Linked DNA regions of Homo sapiens: region 1 is linked to region 2. The links come from fine-mapping of genetic effects on gene expression. A gene starts in region 2. The other region holds a variant in brackets. All regions are shown on one strand. Distances are between the middles of the regions.

Evidence for each region. PIP is the estimated chance that this variant, and not a neighbour inherited with it, causes the effect.
Region 1: its variant is fine-mapped to the expression of C4orf50 in whole blood (TOPMed, PIP 0.98).

What each region holds. Positions count from the first base shown.
Region 1 is chr4:6,180,957-6,189,335 of GRCh38, forward strand. All of the region lies in intron 1 of JAKMIP1 (janus kinase and microtubule interacting protein 1), which reads right to left. Among named protein-coding and RNA genes, the nearest start is that of JAKMIP1, 15 kb to the right of the region's middle. RefSeq lists an enhancer at 1-112. The variant A/T (reference allele first, on the strand shown) is at 3,481.
Region 2 is chr4:6,013,096-6,021,514 of GRCh38, forward strand. It overlaps C4orf50 (chromosome 4 open reading frame 50), which reads right to left and starts at 5,336. Exons shown (of 12, transcript NM_001364689.3): 1 at 5,050-5,336. The coding sequence starts at 5,336.

The sequences.
Region 1 (8,379 bases), 170 kb after region 2:
AGAAGTCCCAGAAAAGGCCCCAGCCATCAGGTCGTTTCTGTCTCACCTCTGCTGAAATGAGTCAAGAGACTAGCAAGTAACCACACCACCAAGAACAAGAAGGGGTAGTCAGTGACTTCCAAGCAAAGGGCAACTTCTTTTTGTGGTTTCTACATCCTTTCTATACTCACCACCCCGTGTGGGCTTGATATGACTAGATGCTGAACAGGGCGCTCCTTGACAGACACCTACCAAACACCTCCTGTGTGCACAAGGCTTTGTGAGATGTGCTGGTGGACGCAGTTCACATTTCTTAGGCTTCCTCTCAAGAAAGCAGTTCCAGAAAGGGTGGAGGGGAGGGTCATGCTGAGAGAGGAAGAGACCAGGGGCTCGAAGAGTAACACTAATTACAGGCCTGGAGTACATAAACCAAGATGAGCTTACTGCCAGGTTACTACCAGGTCACTATCAGGTTACCACCAGCTCAGTACAGAAGGAAGTCCTTCTCAGGTGCAGACATTTGCAGAGTCCCTCAATGTCTCAGTGGCTCCCCCATCCCTTGAGGAGCTCCTAGCCAAGCAAAGGAGACACTGTAACAAGCCCAGGTGATAACTGGGAGACCAGGGCCTATGGGTGCCAGCGTGGTGAGGGAAGGGACATCCAAAGTGGGCTGTGGAAGGGGTGAAATCAGGATATGCAGATGGAGGAGCAGGGGTCAAAGAAAAGTCAATTGGCATCAGAGAGGGAGAGCAGCAGCAACGCAAGCTCCATTCATTCATTCATTCATTCAACAGCATCCTAGTGCCTGTTCCATGCCAGACCCTGTGCTGAGCCTCAAACATGAATCTCACACAGCCCCTTCCCTCACAGAGCTCTAGCCAGCGGGGAAGAAGACTGTGAATGGCATCAGTCACACACTGTGACCATGGCTGTGACAGACAGATGTACAGGGAGGGACCCGCCCTGGCCTTGGGAGGATGGGTGATGCCCAAGGAGATGAGCCTGTGCAGACAGGAGGAGGAGGGGTCTGGGCAAGTTCAGGGAAAGCAGACGATTCAATAAGGTAAGGGACAGTGTTATGGAGTGAATGTTTATGTCCCCCCAAATTGATACATTGAAACCCTATGGTGGGTAATTAGGTCATCAGGGTGAAGCCCTCATGATGAGATTAGTGACCTTATAAGAAGGGACAGGAAACCAGGCTCGGTGGCTCACACCTGTAATCCCAGCTCTTTGGGAGGCCGGGGAAGGTGGATTGCTTGAGCTCAGTTCAAGACCAGCTTGGGCAACATAATGAGACCTCATCTCTACAAAATTAAAAAAATTAGTCAGGTGTGGTGGTGCATATTTGTAGTCCCAGCTACTTGGGAGGCTGAGGTGGGAGGATCACTTGAGCCCGGGAGCTCAAAGCTGCAATGAACAGTGATTACACCACTGCACTCCAGCCTGGGTAACAGAGCGAGACCCTGTCTCAGAAAAAAAAAAAAAAAAGAAAGAAAGAAAGAAAGAAAAGAAAAGAAAAAAAGGAGGGGGACACAAGAGAGCTTATTTCCTTTCTCTCTCCACCATGCGAGGGCACAGTAAGAAGGCAGCCTCCTGCGAACCAGGAAGAGGGGCCTCACCATGAACCAAGTTGTCTGGCACCATGATCTCAGACTTCCAGCCTCCAGAACGGTGAGAAATAAGCTTCTGTTGTTTCAGCCCCTCTGTCTATGGTATTTCTGCTATGGCAGCCAAATGGTCTGAGACAGTAGGTAACAGCAGGAGCATCAGGAGATAAGGCCACATGTGTGATGACAAGGAGTCTGTGCTTTATCCTGGGCCAGCGGGGAGCCCCTGGAGCAGTGGAGTGACAGTGTGAGTTTCGGAAACATATCACCGTTTCTAGATACAACTGCTCCTTTCCCCAAACACTTCCTATAACTCCACAGCCATCCCGAGGAAGAAGGGAGCAGATATGACCTGGAGATGCCTAGGAAGGCACAGGTCCCTCAAGGTCTGCTCACAGAGACTTGGAGGTCAGGCCAGTGCCAGCTCCCAAGGCAGCCCTTCCTCCCGCTCAGCTCAGCTCAGCTCAGCCAGTGATGGTCCTGGAGGCTCCAGGTTCCCAGGTCCCATCTTAGTAATACAAGGACTCTTGAAGGTTGAGACAGAACAAAGAGCTAAACATGATACAGGCAGATAACAATACCACAGATATCTAGACACACAGATACAGGTGCCCTGCGAAGGGGTGCTGGCTGATGTCTAAAATGGAACAGGGCCAGGTGCAGTGGCTCACGCCTGTAATTCCAGCACTTTGGGAGGCTGAGGCAGGCGCATCACCTGAGGTCAGGAGTTTGAGACCAGTCTGGCCAACATGGTGAAACTCCGTCTGTACTAAAAATACAAAAATTAGCCGGGCTTGGTGGCGGGTGCCTGTAATACCAACTACTTGGGAGGCCGAGGCAGGAGAGTCGCTTGAACCTGGGAGGCAGAGGTTACAGTGAGCCAAGATCATGCCATTGCACTCCAGCCTGGGTGACAGAGCAAGACTCTGTCTCAATAAATAAATAAATAAATAAATAAATAAATTTAAAAAAGAAAGTAAAATGGAACAGAAACTTCAGTACTCAGGGTGCTGGGACTTGGTTTTCAAACCACCTTCCATGGAGTCCTGGTGCTCCTTGAAGATGTTTGGGAGGGCCAGGAGTCAAAGGTCTGGAGCAACAGATGCTTGACTTCTTTTTTCTAGGTGTAATAATTTTAAACTGTGAAAACATCACACCAACTCAAATGGGCTGCAAACCCAATATTAACCCTGGTAGACCCCACTGCAGGGACCTGGGCTGCCAGGTGAACACTCAGCTTTGTGCAGGGCTTGGGGGACAGCCTCTCCTGTCATCTCCAGTGAAATGCACTCTGAGAATGCAAGACAAGTCACTCCCAAAAACGGAATCACAAATGCGGTATGCAAATCGTCACAACAGAATATTTTCACAACCACAACAAAGTCCATTAATACTCAAGATGCCACAGCTGTTCAGATTGCAACTGTCACCCTATACTTTTCGTTTTGAAAGTTGAATTCATCAGAGCAACCTCACTGTCCTCACTGACTGACCTTATAACTGGTAAATGTTGTCAGTTTAAAGTCATAAGATAAATGTGAGAATAAACCATCACTTCTCTGTTTTGTATATTGGAGCAGGGTGGTTTAGCTATGTAAAAATTTTATTTTTGAAAAGACTTCATTTTGCAGATGGGAAAACAAACCCAAAGAGAGGTGAGTGTATCACACTGTCCTGTGAGTATCATCCCTTCTCAATAGGCAGAAACCAGGTGCCCAGCACATAGCAGACACTCCACAAATGCCCTAGGGAAGGAAGAACCGCTCCCAGGCACCACAGCCAGGAAGGGGGCATGCCTCGAACACACGCCTCCCTACTCCCAGCCCACTGCTGGTTTTCAGACTCTGCCGCCTTCCCTCCTTTCCTAGAAATGACAATACAGCCCACACTC[A/T]GCATCACAAGGAGGGAGAGAGGGCAAGGCAAGTGCAGTATAAGAGCCAGGGTGCCTTCCCTCTTCCTCAAGAAAATACTAGAAGCCAAGCACACCCTCCACCCTGAGCGCCAGTGTGGGATGGGTGCTATATGGACGGGAAGAGCTGCTGTCTGCACTCTAGGAAACAAGGGTCCCCCGCGCTCACCTGTAGATTCAGCAAGAGAGCAGGGGTGATTGTGCCTATCGAAGGGAAGCAACCAATTGTCAACTATTTTAGAAACAGCCAAACAGAATGCATAACTACAGGATAAGTGGAGTGATGGTTAATATTGAGTGTCAACTCGATTGGACAGAAGGATAGAAAGTATTGTTCCTGAGTGTGTCTGTGAGGATCTTACCAAAGGAGATTCACATTTCAGTCAGTGGACTGGGAGAGGCAGACCTGCCCTCGGTGTGGGTGGGCACCATCTCATCAGCTGCCAGCACAGCTAGAATAAAGAAGGCAGAATTTGGAAAGAGCAGACTTGCTGAGTCTTCCGGCCTCCATCTTTCTCCCGTGCTGGATGCTTCCTCCCCTCGAACATCAGACTCCAAGTTCTTCAGCGTTTGGCCTCTTGGACTTCCACCAGTGGTTTGCCAGGGCTCTCAGGCCTTGGGCCACTGACTGAAGGCTGCACTGTCAGCTTCCTTACTTTTGAGGTTTTGGGACTCGAACTGGCTTCCTTGCTCCTCAGCTTGCAGATGGCCTAATGTGGGGCTTCACCTTGTGATCTTGTGAGTCAATTATCCCAATAAACTTCCTTTCATATATACATCTATCCTATCAGTTCTGTCCCTCTCGAGAACCCTGACTAATACAAGTGGGAACCAGCCCTGTCTGCCCTAGTTCTTAAACTGGAGAGTGTATTGGAATTGCTCCGAGGGCTCATTAAAAGCCAGACCCCAGGGGCCGGGCACGGTGGCTCACGCCTGTAATCCCAGCACTTTGGGAGGCCGAGGTGGGCGGATCATGAGGTCAGGAGATCGAGACCATCCTGGCTAACACAGTGAAACCCCATCTCTACTAAAAAATACAAAAAATTAGCCGGGCGTGGTGGCAGACGCCTGTAGTCCCAGCTACTTGGGAGGCTGAGGCAGGAGAATGGCGTGAACCTGGGAGGCGGAGCTTGCAGTGAGCTGAGATCACGCCACTGCACTCCAGCCTGAGCGACAGAGGAAGACTCCGTCTCAAAAAAACAAAAGCCAGACCCCAGCTGCAGAGTCCCTGATCCAGGAGATCAGGGTGGGGCCAGAGGACCTGTGGTTCTGAGCTGCTCCCAGGTGAGGCTGCTGCTGGCCCAGGACCTCATTTTGAGAACCACTTCTCAGATCTGTTCACTACAAACCCTCCTGATTAAGGCTCATTAAGGCAGGTGTTCTAGACAATACCTTTAACAGCCCACAGCCAAGTTTTCTATCTAAACTATTAAAACTACATTGAGAAAATATTTATAGACTACAATTAAATATGACACTAGTTCAGACTGGACTTTTTTTTAATTACCTCAGTGTGGAGGTCATTTCCAATTGTGCTGGACAATAAGAGGGAGAAGAGGGGCACTCCATTCAGTAATGGAGATGAAAGTGGACACAGCCAGCCACTCAACACAGTGTCTGGCTAGGGGCTACAGGAAGGAGAACGAACAAGTTGTGGTGAGAATTACACAACTCCTAAGCAGGGAAAGCTCCCAGCTGAAGTGAGGGGAATGCAGGAACAGCCGACGAGGCTTCCCTGGAGCTTGCCAGGGGCAGGTCAGGCGGATGGGCAGGATGCAGACTGAGGAGGCACAGCAGGGTGGGGAAGTCCAAGGAATGGGCATTCCAGGAAAGTGGGATGGTGAGCAAAAGCATGGAAGTTGGAAAAGGAGGTGGTTAGAGTCAGGGAAGTAGTCAAGTAGTCAGTTTGCAAAGGCAAGTGAAGGGGCAAGCAGGAGTGATGGAGGATGAGACAGGAAGGGAAAAGTGGGGGCCTCTGGTGTCTGGCTGGCAAGAACTGAACATCAGCTACAGGCCAGGCATGGCTTGATGCTACTGACTTCTAACTTCATTGCATTGTAGTCACAGAACGTGCTTTGCTTTTTTGTTTGCTTGTTTTCTCTCCTTTTAATTTTATTGAGGTTGTATTAGGGCCTAGCATATGGTCTATCCTGGAAAATGATTCATGGGCACTAGAGAAGAATATTTATTCTGATGTCCTTGGTCTAGTGTTCTATAGGTTTCCACTAGGTCTAATTGGTGTGCAGTGTTGTTCAAGTTCCCTGCTTCCTTGTTGACCTCCTGTAGAGTTGTTCTATCTGTTATTGAAAGTGGGTGTTGACATATTCAACTATTGTTGTTGAATTATCTATTTCTCCCTTCACTTCTGTCAGGTTTTTTGTTTGTTTGTTTGAGACAGTCTCTCACTCTGTCACCCAAGCTGGAGTGCAGTGGTGCAATCACGGCTCACTGCAGCCTCAACCTCCCCAGGCTCAGGTGATCCTCTCACCTCAGCCTCCTAAGTAGCTGGGACTACAGACACACAACACCATGCCTGGCTAATTTTGTATTTTTTTTGTAGAGACAGAGTTTCATCATGTTATCCAGGCTGGTCTCAAACTCCTGGGCTCAAGCAATCTGCCCACCTCAGCCTCTCAAAATGCTAGGATTTCAGGCATGAGCCACCATGCCCAGCCCACTTCTGTCAGTTTTTGCTTCATATATTTTGGTGCTCTGTTGTTAGGTGCAAATATGTTTATAATTGTTATATATTTCTGATGTATTGAACTTCTTGTCATTATAAAATGTTACTTTTTATCTCTAGTAACTTTTTTTGTTTTAAACTCATTTTGTCTAATATCAGTACAGCCCCTTAGCTTTCTTATGGTTGCTATTTACCTGATATATTTTTTCTCATCCTTTCACTTTCAATCTATTTGTATCCTTGAATCTAAAGTGTGTCTCCTATAGACAGTGCTATGATCTGAATGTTTATGTACCCCCAGAATTCATATGTTTCTAGTCACCAGTATGATAGCATTAGAAGGTGAGGCGTTTGGCAAGTGATTAGGTCACGAGGGCGAGCCCTCATAAATGAGATTAGTGCCTTTGTAAAAGAAACCCTAGGGAGCTAGCTCACCCCTTCCACCATGTGAAAACACAGCAAGAAGACTGCTGTCAATGGGGAGGCAGGGCCTCACCAGACACTGAATCTGCCGGTACCTTGATCTTGGACTTCCCAGCCTCTAGAACTGTGAGAAATAAATTTCTATTGTTTATAAGCTATCCAGTCTAAGGTGTTTTGTTATAGCAGCCTGAAAGGACCAAGATAGCATATACTTGGATCATATATTTTATCCCTGACAACATCTACCTTTTGACTGGCTTATTTAACCTATTCATCTTTAATAGTATTGATATAGTTGGACTTATGTCTTCCATTTTATTTTGTTTTCAATATGCCTCACGTCATTTTTGCTCCTTTATTCTTCCATTACTGCCTTCTTTTGCACTAAATGAATCAGACACCGTGTTTGCCATGTAAGTCAGGAGCAAGGACTTCAAAGAGGTATTTCTTTTAAATGTAGATAGCAGAATTACCTTTCTGACAATGTTAAGTTTCTTAAATGGCTAATTTTCAAATCTGTCATTTTTTTTTCTTTTTGGTTCCAGTAAATGGGAGCCAATCAATTATTTATCCAAGAGTCTCTGAACACCATCTACAAAAATGTCCACTACCAGCTTCCTGGGTTGGAAGATTGGAAGTCTACAGCTTGACCTTCTTACAAGGAGGCAGAATGGGGCCACTGTATTTTCGAGATCCCCTTTGTGACATGTGGTGACTGGAAGTGTGGAGACAGCTCATTGCTTCAGACTAAGGTGGGGAGGGATGGTCAGGATTCAGAACAGAATCCGCAATGATGGCGTTTTCAAGTGCTGTGGCACTGTTCTCACAGACACCTGCACAGGAGGTTCTGATAAGGAGAGGTCCTTTCTCCACTTCCAACAATAAACAGATAAGACACCACCCCAAAATGTTCAGCCCACATCCCTACCTAAGAGTGACTTAATACACCCCAAACCTCCTTGCCACTTGACCTCTTAGCATACCCCCAAAGCCCTCTGCTCACTCACAATGATGAAGGGAAGCTACAACCCAGGAGCAAATGAATCGTGAAATTCCAAATTAGCAACTTATTAATCTGGGGCACCTGAGGTTTGGGGCACCTGCATCCCTCCCCCATCTTCTGGCTAGAGCACCCCAATTTTTAATATCCTATCCAGCAATAAGACTTGTTTGTGTCTTCAGTCTGAAGTGTCTTGCATTTGTCCCTATAGAAAAATCCGGGGCTCTGCAATACACAGGCTCTCACAGACTTGGTTCATCCTGGGTGCCTATGGTACTTCCTGGGAGAGATAGATCATGTCAGGAAAGCACCCATCTGCCCAGTGGTTTAAATAGATTAGGCACAATGTGGGGGCATCCAGGCCCTTTTTCAAAATAAGATATCTGGTTTGCAAAAAGAACCTCGTCAAGCCCTGAGCCTGGAAGGCTCCAAGACTTGCTGAGGAAATCCAATTACTGCCGGGCATAATGAGCTCACTCACCCAGCGCCCTGGTCCAACAAAGCAGTCCTGCCAACATCCAGAAAGAAGGTTTGTCTTCCACAGTGCATTCGGAGGGTATGGCTTGGGAGAAAGAGAAAAACCAGGCTAATGGAATAAGAAATGTGACCTTCCGGGACCACAGGAATGCAGTTTGTTTCTGAAGAACAGCATTCTAACATTTTTCTGCTGCCTTAAACTAAAAGCAGGCTGCACCGTAAGGTAGCGAAATGCCAGTCTGAAGAGGGAAAGGGAAACTTTGAGTTTTACAGAACCTTCGCAAATCTCATCTCTGGA
Region 2 (8,419 bases):
ATAGAGGTCATTAACCTTGTTCAGTAGGTTTTCATGAAGATTAAATTATATGATGCATTATTATTAATGATAAGGCCAAGAGTCCCTCTCCTATTCCAGTTATCATGCCCTGAGGAAAGGTCTCAAGGGTGGCAGACCAGAGTGTGCTCTCTCGTGAGGATCATAACCAAGATCCTTCCAAACTGGACCACAGGAGCAGCTCCAGTTAGCCAGAGTCAGGCTGAGCACTTTCCGATGAGTTATACAATATGGGGAGATTTGCTAGGAAAAACAAAAGCCTTTCTTTCTAGTTTTGAGACCAATCTGTAACAATAAATATGAGAACAGTATTTAATTCTGATACGATTCCTAATCTTAAACGGAGCAGAAAATGACGAATTTCACTTTGGCAGGGTGAATTTTGGCCCCAAGTTCATCCAGGCCCTAATCCCTGGAACCTATGAATGTTACCTTAAAATGCAAGAGAGACTGCAGATAGGATTAAGTCAAGGATGGTGAGATGGGGATATGGATCCGGATTCACCTGCTGGTCTCTAAGACCAATCACAAGTGTCCTTGAGAGAGGGTTGAACTTAGGGACGGCCCTGTGGACACCAACACGCGATTGCATGCAGCTGGGTCCAAAGATGGAGGCGGGACCAGGAACCCAGGAATGCAGCTCTAGACCTGGAGAAGACCAGGAAATGGATTTCCCCTCCAGCCTCGGAGAGGGCTTGGCTCCACCGACAGCTCGACTAGCTCAGGAAGACTGATTCCGACTTCTGGCCACCAAGCTTGTGGTGACGTGTTACAGCAACCACGGGAAGCTAATACACTCACGAATATGACATAGACAGTGAAGGAACACTGTTCCCTGATTAAACCAGTGACAAGTGTGGATGATACTTTTACTGTGTTTTTAAGTTGTGTGTTTTTTTTTTTTTTGAGATGGAGTTTTGCGTTTGTTGCCCAGGCTGGAGTGCAATGGCGTGATCTCGGCTCACCACAACCTCTGCTTCTGGGGTTCAAGCGATTCTCCTGCCTCAGCCTCCCGAGTAGCTGGGATTACAGGCATGTGCCACCACGCCTGGCTAATTTTGTATTTTTAGTAGAGACAGGGTTTCTCCATGTTGGTCAGGCTGGTCTTGAACTCCCGACCTCAGGTGATCAGCCCGCCTGGGCCTCCCAAAGTGCTGGGATTACAGACGCGAGCAACCGGGCCGGCCTAGTATTGTTTTAAGGGTTAATTATGTTAATACTTGTCAAGCCTGTGAACAGTGGCTTGGTACTGAACAAGTACTCGGTAAGTGCTTAGCTGTTATTAATTTTACTGCATTTAGATGGGGAATAAATATGCAAAATGATAGTGTTATGAAGATGGGAGTGGGATTTTCTTCCTCACATTTCTAGCAAAGCTGTTATATTATTTTGAGAAGAAATACTTTTGTGCTTCAACTCTTTAATTAATGTGAACCCAAGACATACTATCCAGCCTTTCCCCTGCCCCAGCTAGACCCAAACACATTGCAACATTCACCTGAAATCTGTGCTCAGAATTGTGCTTTCAGACCCTGGCCTCAGCTTTTAGCAGCCCTGGATCACTTAGTATTTCATCCCTCAGCCTCAGTTTACTCATCTGTCAAAGGAGATGATGTCACCCCATGCATCACAGGGTCCAAAGGAGCCAAGATGGGGCAAGTATGGGAGGGCCCAGCCCTGTGCCAGCTCCCTTTTCTCCTCCCCTGACCCCTCTTCTGCAAGATGGTGTACCCCATCTTTAAAGAGAACAGAGGACTCGAGCCCACATCCCCCCACAGGCCCAGTCACAGAGGCCCCTCCTCCCTATGGCTCATGGTGTCCCCCTGGGAATCTCTGTCTTTCCCTCCCCCATGGAGGGGTCTCCTTTGGTTGGAGTTCCCTGCCTGTCTTCCTGGGGTCCATTGATCTTCTGGTTTCCACCACCAACCTTTCTAGAAGATTTGAATGTACAACCCTGTATGGGCCTACGCTGCTAGTCTCTCAGCCCAGGGCCCTGCCTTCCCCAACTCTCAGCACCCAGGACTTCTGTTATGGGCTCAACACATCCCTGCATCCTGTGTTGAAGGCCTAACCCCCAAGTTCCTTAGAATGTGATTATATTTGGAGATAAGCCCTTTCAAAGAGGCAATTAAGTTGAAAGAAAGTCATGAGCGTGGGCCCAGATCCAATCCGACTGGGGTCCTTGTAAGAGGAGGAGAGGAGGACACAGACACACACAGAGGGATGACCATGTGACGACACAGGGAGAAGGTGGAGTCCACAAGCCAAGGAGTGAGGCCTCAGGAGAAACCAATCCTGCCGACCCCCCGAGCTTGGGCTTTTGGGATCCAGAAATGTGAGAAAATAAGTTTTTGTTAAGTCACCCAGGTCTGCAAATAATGCCATTTCATTATAATGTTGATGAGAAAAAAAAAGATTCCCAGCCAGGGCCACTGTCTATGTGGAGTTTGCCCATTCTCCCCATGTCTGTGTGGGCTTTCTCGGGGTACCCTGGTCTCCTCCTGCAGCTGTAACACGTCACCACAAGCTTGGCGGCCAGAAGTCGGAATCAGTCTTCCTGAGCTAGTCGAGCTGTCAGTGGAGCCAAGCCCTCTCCGAGGCTGAAGGGGAAATCCAATTCCTGGTCTTCTCCAGGTCTAGAGCTGCATTCCTGGGCTCCTGGCCCTGCCTTCATCTTTGGAGCCAGCTGCATGCAATCCCACACTGGCGGCCACACTGCCATCCCTAGACTCAACCCTCTCTGTCTCCCTCTCGCAAGGATACTTGTGATTGGTCTTAGAGACCAGCCGGCGAATCTGGGTCCATATCCCCATGTCACCATCCTTGACATGTCGACATAGTCCCAGCCTGCGTGAGTGTGCGCGTGGGTGTGAGTGTCCTGTTCAGGCCTTGCACCCTGAGCTGCCGGGAGAGGCCTCAGCCACCTGTGACCCTGAACTGGAACAATTGGGTAAATAATCATCTTACTTGTGTTTTTTTGAGTCTTTCTTAAATCTAAATTTGTTTGAGCCTTTCACATTTATTTCAATGTTTAACATTAGAAGTGTTTGGGGTCTTTATCTCAAAGTTTGGTGATGTTTTTGTGACCTGAAATATGCTGTAGGAACTTAACTCTTATTTGTATCAATTAGCCTATGGTCAAATTAGTTTTGTGGCCAGGTGTGGTGGCTCACGTCTATAATCCCAACACTTTGGGAGGCCAAGGCAGGCAGATCGCTTGAGGTCAGACGTTCGAGACCTGCATGGCCAACATGGTGAAACACTGTCTCTACTAAAAATACAAAAACTAGCTAGGCGTGGTGATGGGCGCCTATAGTCCCAGCTACTCGGGAGGCTGAGGCAGGAGAATCGCTTAAACCCAGGAGGTGGGGTTTGCAGTGAGCCAAGATTATGTCACTTCACTCCAGCCTGGGTGACAGAGTAAGACTCCATCTCAAAACAAAGCAAAATAAAAAACAAAAACAAATTGGTTTTGTTGTAGGTTGCTTCACTTAGTCACAGTTTCCAAGGGCCTATAGACAACGTTCAGTGAGGACTTACTGTGCTTTGTCATGGCAACCCAGGCAAACTAACATAACTTTGTATATGACTCTCGGAGGGTAAGTGCGTTGCAGAATGAATGAAAGAATGGGCAATCACATAGAGTAACAGAAGAATTTTTCTGATTTGTGAATTTCTTCATGCATAAAACTTTACCAAAAGGAAGAAAAGTAAATCACATGTGCATACACGTTCAATGGTCTGCCTTTACTAAATCAAAGGCAAGTACAAGAAAATGGGGAAGTCCCGCAAAAATCCAAGGCACGTGGCTGCTGGGATATGAGTAACGTGTCAGAATCAATCCCCGCTGTCACTGCATTGTGCTTCCATGCTGGGTTTCGCTGATCTATATACAAGGCCCAACCTCGTTCTGCCAGTCTGGGTGTCAAGACATCGTCAGGAAAGAAGATGGGCTTTAGAGAAAGACCTGGATTCAAACGCCCCACCTTGAGGCCAGGTCAGCTCCATCAGGCAAACAGTGCCCACAGCAGGAAGTTCTACAGAGAGAAACGAATGCGGAGAACCTATTTCAAAGATGACAGCAGAGTCCAAAGGCCAGACAGAGACAGGCAGCCTGGATTAGCAACTGCCGGAAGCCACTTCTGCCCCTGGGGCTGGACAGCCACACAGGGAAGAGACGATGTTACCAGGGCAGGGCAGAGCAGCCAGGCCACCCAGCGGGAGCTGGGACCGCAGAGGAAGCCGAGAGCACATCTGAGTTACAGCCACAGTGGGAGATGTCACTGTGGGAACAAGAGTGACTTTATTTTAAACGCTAATCCAGCAGGTGACTCTTGACTAACCCTGAGTCCACGAATGCCTCCAAGATGTGGAGTTGATATAGTTCTGTTTACGTAGAAACACCTATTCATTGTGAGTTTCCTCCAAAACAACCCTTGTCATTGCAGAAACCATAGGCTGTGATGCCTGTAGCCACCTATGCAAGCCTTCCAGAGCACACATGCTTTTTCCCCAGGATATAAGCCCTGGGTTGGGGATGGAAGGTTTGCTGTGTGGACATCTACTTGTCTGGCGGCTGCCTAAAACCATGCTTCTGTCTGCCAGTTCCCCTAAAAAAATCACCCCAAACCGACCAACTGGATTTGTCTGCCTCTGTCCTTGGTTTCTCAGTTCCTTCTACACTTCCCTGTCACTTTGAACATAGGGCCCTTTCATGGAACAGTCACCCAGAGAAGAAGAGAGGGAGAACACCTGGCTTCTCCCTGCCTCCCTCCGTTTCAGGGCCTCCCATTGGCTGCACCTAAATGGAAGCCTTTGAGCAGAGGAGCCCGGGCAGCCTCATCTGCAGGTACAGAGCAGAAGAAGGAGGGCGGGAGGAGCAGAAGGCAAGTGACTGCGTGGGCAGGTTACGTGTCTTTGGTGAGCCAGTTTCCCCAGCTGTGTGGTGTGATTCAACACACCATGGTGACACACTCTGATGGCCCCGCGGTTTGTGAAATACACACAGAGAGATCAAAATGGCATCGCTACCTGCTTCTCAGCCCGGACTCCGATGTCACGTACTTGTCCTCTGCTGCTGACAGCTTCTGCTCGGAGGACTCCAGCTGCCTCCTGAGCGCACCCATATCCATGTCTGGGCGGCCAGCTGCTTCTTCCTGAAGACATTCCCGCTCCTCAGCACTATCTTCCATGTCCTGGAATATCCAGGATGTGTCAATCTTCACATCAACGTTCATTATGTCGAACCCCTCACTGCTGGGGGCTCTGATGACGTAGCTGAAACTCTCCTCAGTCCGTCCCTTGGCTGTTGGCTCCATCTCAGAAATATTTCATGGGGCAAGACTTAATAATAAAATTAAGTGAGTTTGCAACATTGACTTCCCGGAGATTTCAAGGTGGTGTTTGTGACTTCAGATTGTTCAGGAAAATATCCTTTGAGAAGGGCAAGAACAGGTGGATTATTCATGAGTGGGTGACTTGGGTTTCATCTGCACAAGCGTCATACAATATGAATGAAAGCCTCTCGTTTTACAAGTCAGCATGCCAGAACTCACGCAAAGCAAGAAAAAGTTGCAGAAAAATCACTTGAGATGAAATGCCTAGTGATGAACACAGAGAGGAAAAATAAGACCTCCAGGTAAGGCCATCAGATGTTACAGACTCCCAGTAGTCAATGAAGCTTATCTTTTTACCACATAATGAATAAGGTTCCACACCTCCTCTTTGAGCACAGCACATATTTTTCAAGGACCTAGAGTTTGCTAGGGGAAGAGGATGGGAAATTTATGCTGCCCTGGGTGCCGTCTGCATCCAGGGCAGGGGCCTCTCATGCCTTACCTAGTCCAATTCTCCCGGTGACCTTATGAGGTGGGCGTTAACATGACCATTATACAGATGGTCAGACGGAGGCTCTGGAAGGTGAAGGAGCTTATCCGGGTCCCACAGGTGGGATGGGAAGTAGCAGAATCAGGATTCAAATATGGATCTGACTCCCAAACTGGAGTGTGTGTGTTCTGACACAGGAGATACAGTAATAGGTGAGCAACAAGACCCCAGAAAAGGAGCAAACGCATCCTTTGGGCACCCTGAGGAGGGGGAGCGAGCATGAGGCTGAAGAGATCGTAGGAGGAATGGGGAATTACAGCAGAGAGAGGTGGGGAGGAGACTCCCCCAGGTGGGGAGCATCCTCAGGCCACAGACCCGCACAGACAGGCAGGACAAGTGAAGGGAACAGGAGGACCAGACAAAGCTGGCCCCGTGGACACACAGAAGGAGGAAGTGAGGAGTGAGGACAGAGGAGGCTGGGTGCCATCTTCTCTCAGGCACTCAAGGACTCCGGCGTTTCTGTGGGCCCCTGGGAGAAGGGAGGTGCCTGGTCAAATGTCATTTTGAGGATCGAGCACTCTGGGGTTTGCAGGAGCGAGATGGAGGCAGCTGCACCTGTAGGAGGAGGCAGCGCCACAGGCCAGGCCTGGTGCAAAGAGGCGTCAGGACCAAGACAAATAGAAAATGAGAGGCTTCCGTCTCCCTGTTAAAAATAAGAGACGTCCTCCCTCCCTTTTCTTAAAGCATCTACTTTAGAAAATGTGTAAGTTCTTTCTTTGTCTCTTTGAAATATGTGTAAATCCTTTTTACAGCGAAATAAGCCTTTTCCAGCATTACGACTCAGGAATGTTTCCCTGAAGGACCTGGGCACCGCCTCTTTGAGATGTAAATTCGAAGGAAAACAGCGCCCCTAGTGTTCAGTGGGAGGAAGGAGCCGAATTGGGCAGGCGCCTGGCTCCGAGATGCAAAACCTGTCACAGTAAGTGACAGAAGGGTGGAACCCAGGTGCAGGAGAAGCTTTTTTTTCCTTTGTATAAAACAAATTAATGAACACAGAGGGTTGCCCTCGTTGTCAGGTGAGTTTAGGATGAACCATGTGAAACAATGACGCTATCGAGTCCTTTTCCGCAGGGATGAGAGAGGATGTGTGCATGGATTGTGCCTGCCTGGCCATATAAAAGGGTGAAACTTCTTACTGTCTTTGCAATCTCTCAGTGGGTTACCTGTAATGCACCTCATATCTTGGTTTAATGCTTATTCAATAATAAACCTTTTTTAAATTTTCTTTGTGATGAGGTTTTCTGTGCTGGGAGAAGCTTTTGTCTTTAATCATATTTTCCCAACAGTGGCCAATGTCTTGTTGGCCACAAGGGGTTTCCGTGGACCTGGGGCAGTTGGAGGCGGGGGATGGGGGTGCAGTGGAGCCACTCAGATCCCAGGCGCTGGGGCCAGGCTGCCTGGGTTCCAGGCCTGTCTCCATCGCTTCTCAGATGTGATTTTGGACAAATTACTTAACTTCTCAAAAAAAAGAGGGTAAAGATCATGCCTAAGTGAAGAGCTGTTGAGGAATAAATGAGTCGATTCCTGCAAAGCCCTCAGCAGAGCACCTGGCACACACTAAATACAGCATGCTGTCTGCTGGGTAGGGGGCAGACGCAACACTGTCCAGCTGTGTCCAGTTTTCACGCCTACTTGCCGCATGATCCTAGGAAAATGACTCGGCCCCTTGCAAAATGAAACTGACAGCAGTCCCCGCTCCCCACTGTGGTGATGACTGACTGAGCTCTGGGGCGGTGGTGGGGGGTGGTGGCTGGTCCTGTACCTGCACCGCACCGTGAGCTCCCAGGAACATCAGCCAAGAGGAGCCAGTGCAGAGTGGGAGGACTGAGTGACAGCTGAAGGCAATAGCAACAGACTGAAAAATTACCCCAGGGCCACCAAGGAGGAGGAGCTGTTCCAGCCCTTCCTTGGGAGCAGCCCTGAGGGAGGGCACGTCCTTCCTTCTTGCCTAAGGACAGGGAAGCAGGCAGGGCCTCTCCTGGGGAAGTGTTCTCAGGCTTTTTAGGTAAGTGACGGAGGCTCTTGGGGGAAGAAGAAGGTCAAACAGAGAAAATCGTGGCCTGCCCATGGTTTACCAACATCTGTGGTAGCCTGGGGTGGAGATCTGAGCCTGCAGGCCCCTCAGAAGTGGTAGGGCCTGGGCAGGAGAAGGGGACAGATTGATGTGCAGATGTAAGGATGGGGTTCTGCCCCCTTGGGATCCTCAGGGAGGTTCCCTGAGACTGAGGGTGGTGACAGGGAGGACACAGGCCATGGAAGAAATTAAGAGTCCCCGTTTCTGCTGGAACAACAGCCCCTGAGAGCTGGGGGGAGGCTGGGAGGAACGGAGGGAGGTCTGGCCGTGTGAAGACCTGGGCTCCACCCTACTTCAGAGCGGGAATCTGGGGCATAGAGAAGGGCCCTACAGAAAGCCCCAAGAGTCCAGACAACTGGGCTGGGGGGAAAAGGACCCCCCAATGGCACATTCGCTATTTCCCACCCAATTTGGCACATCCCTGGCAAACCCTGTTTAAAT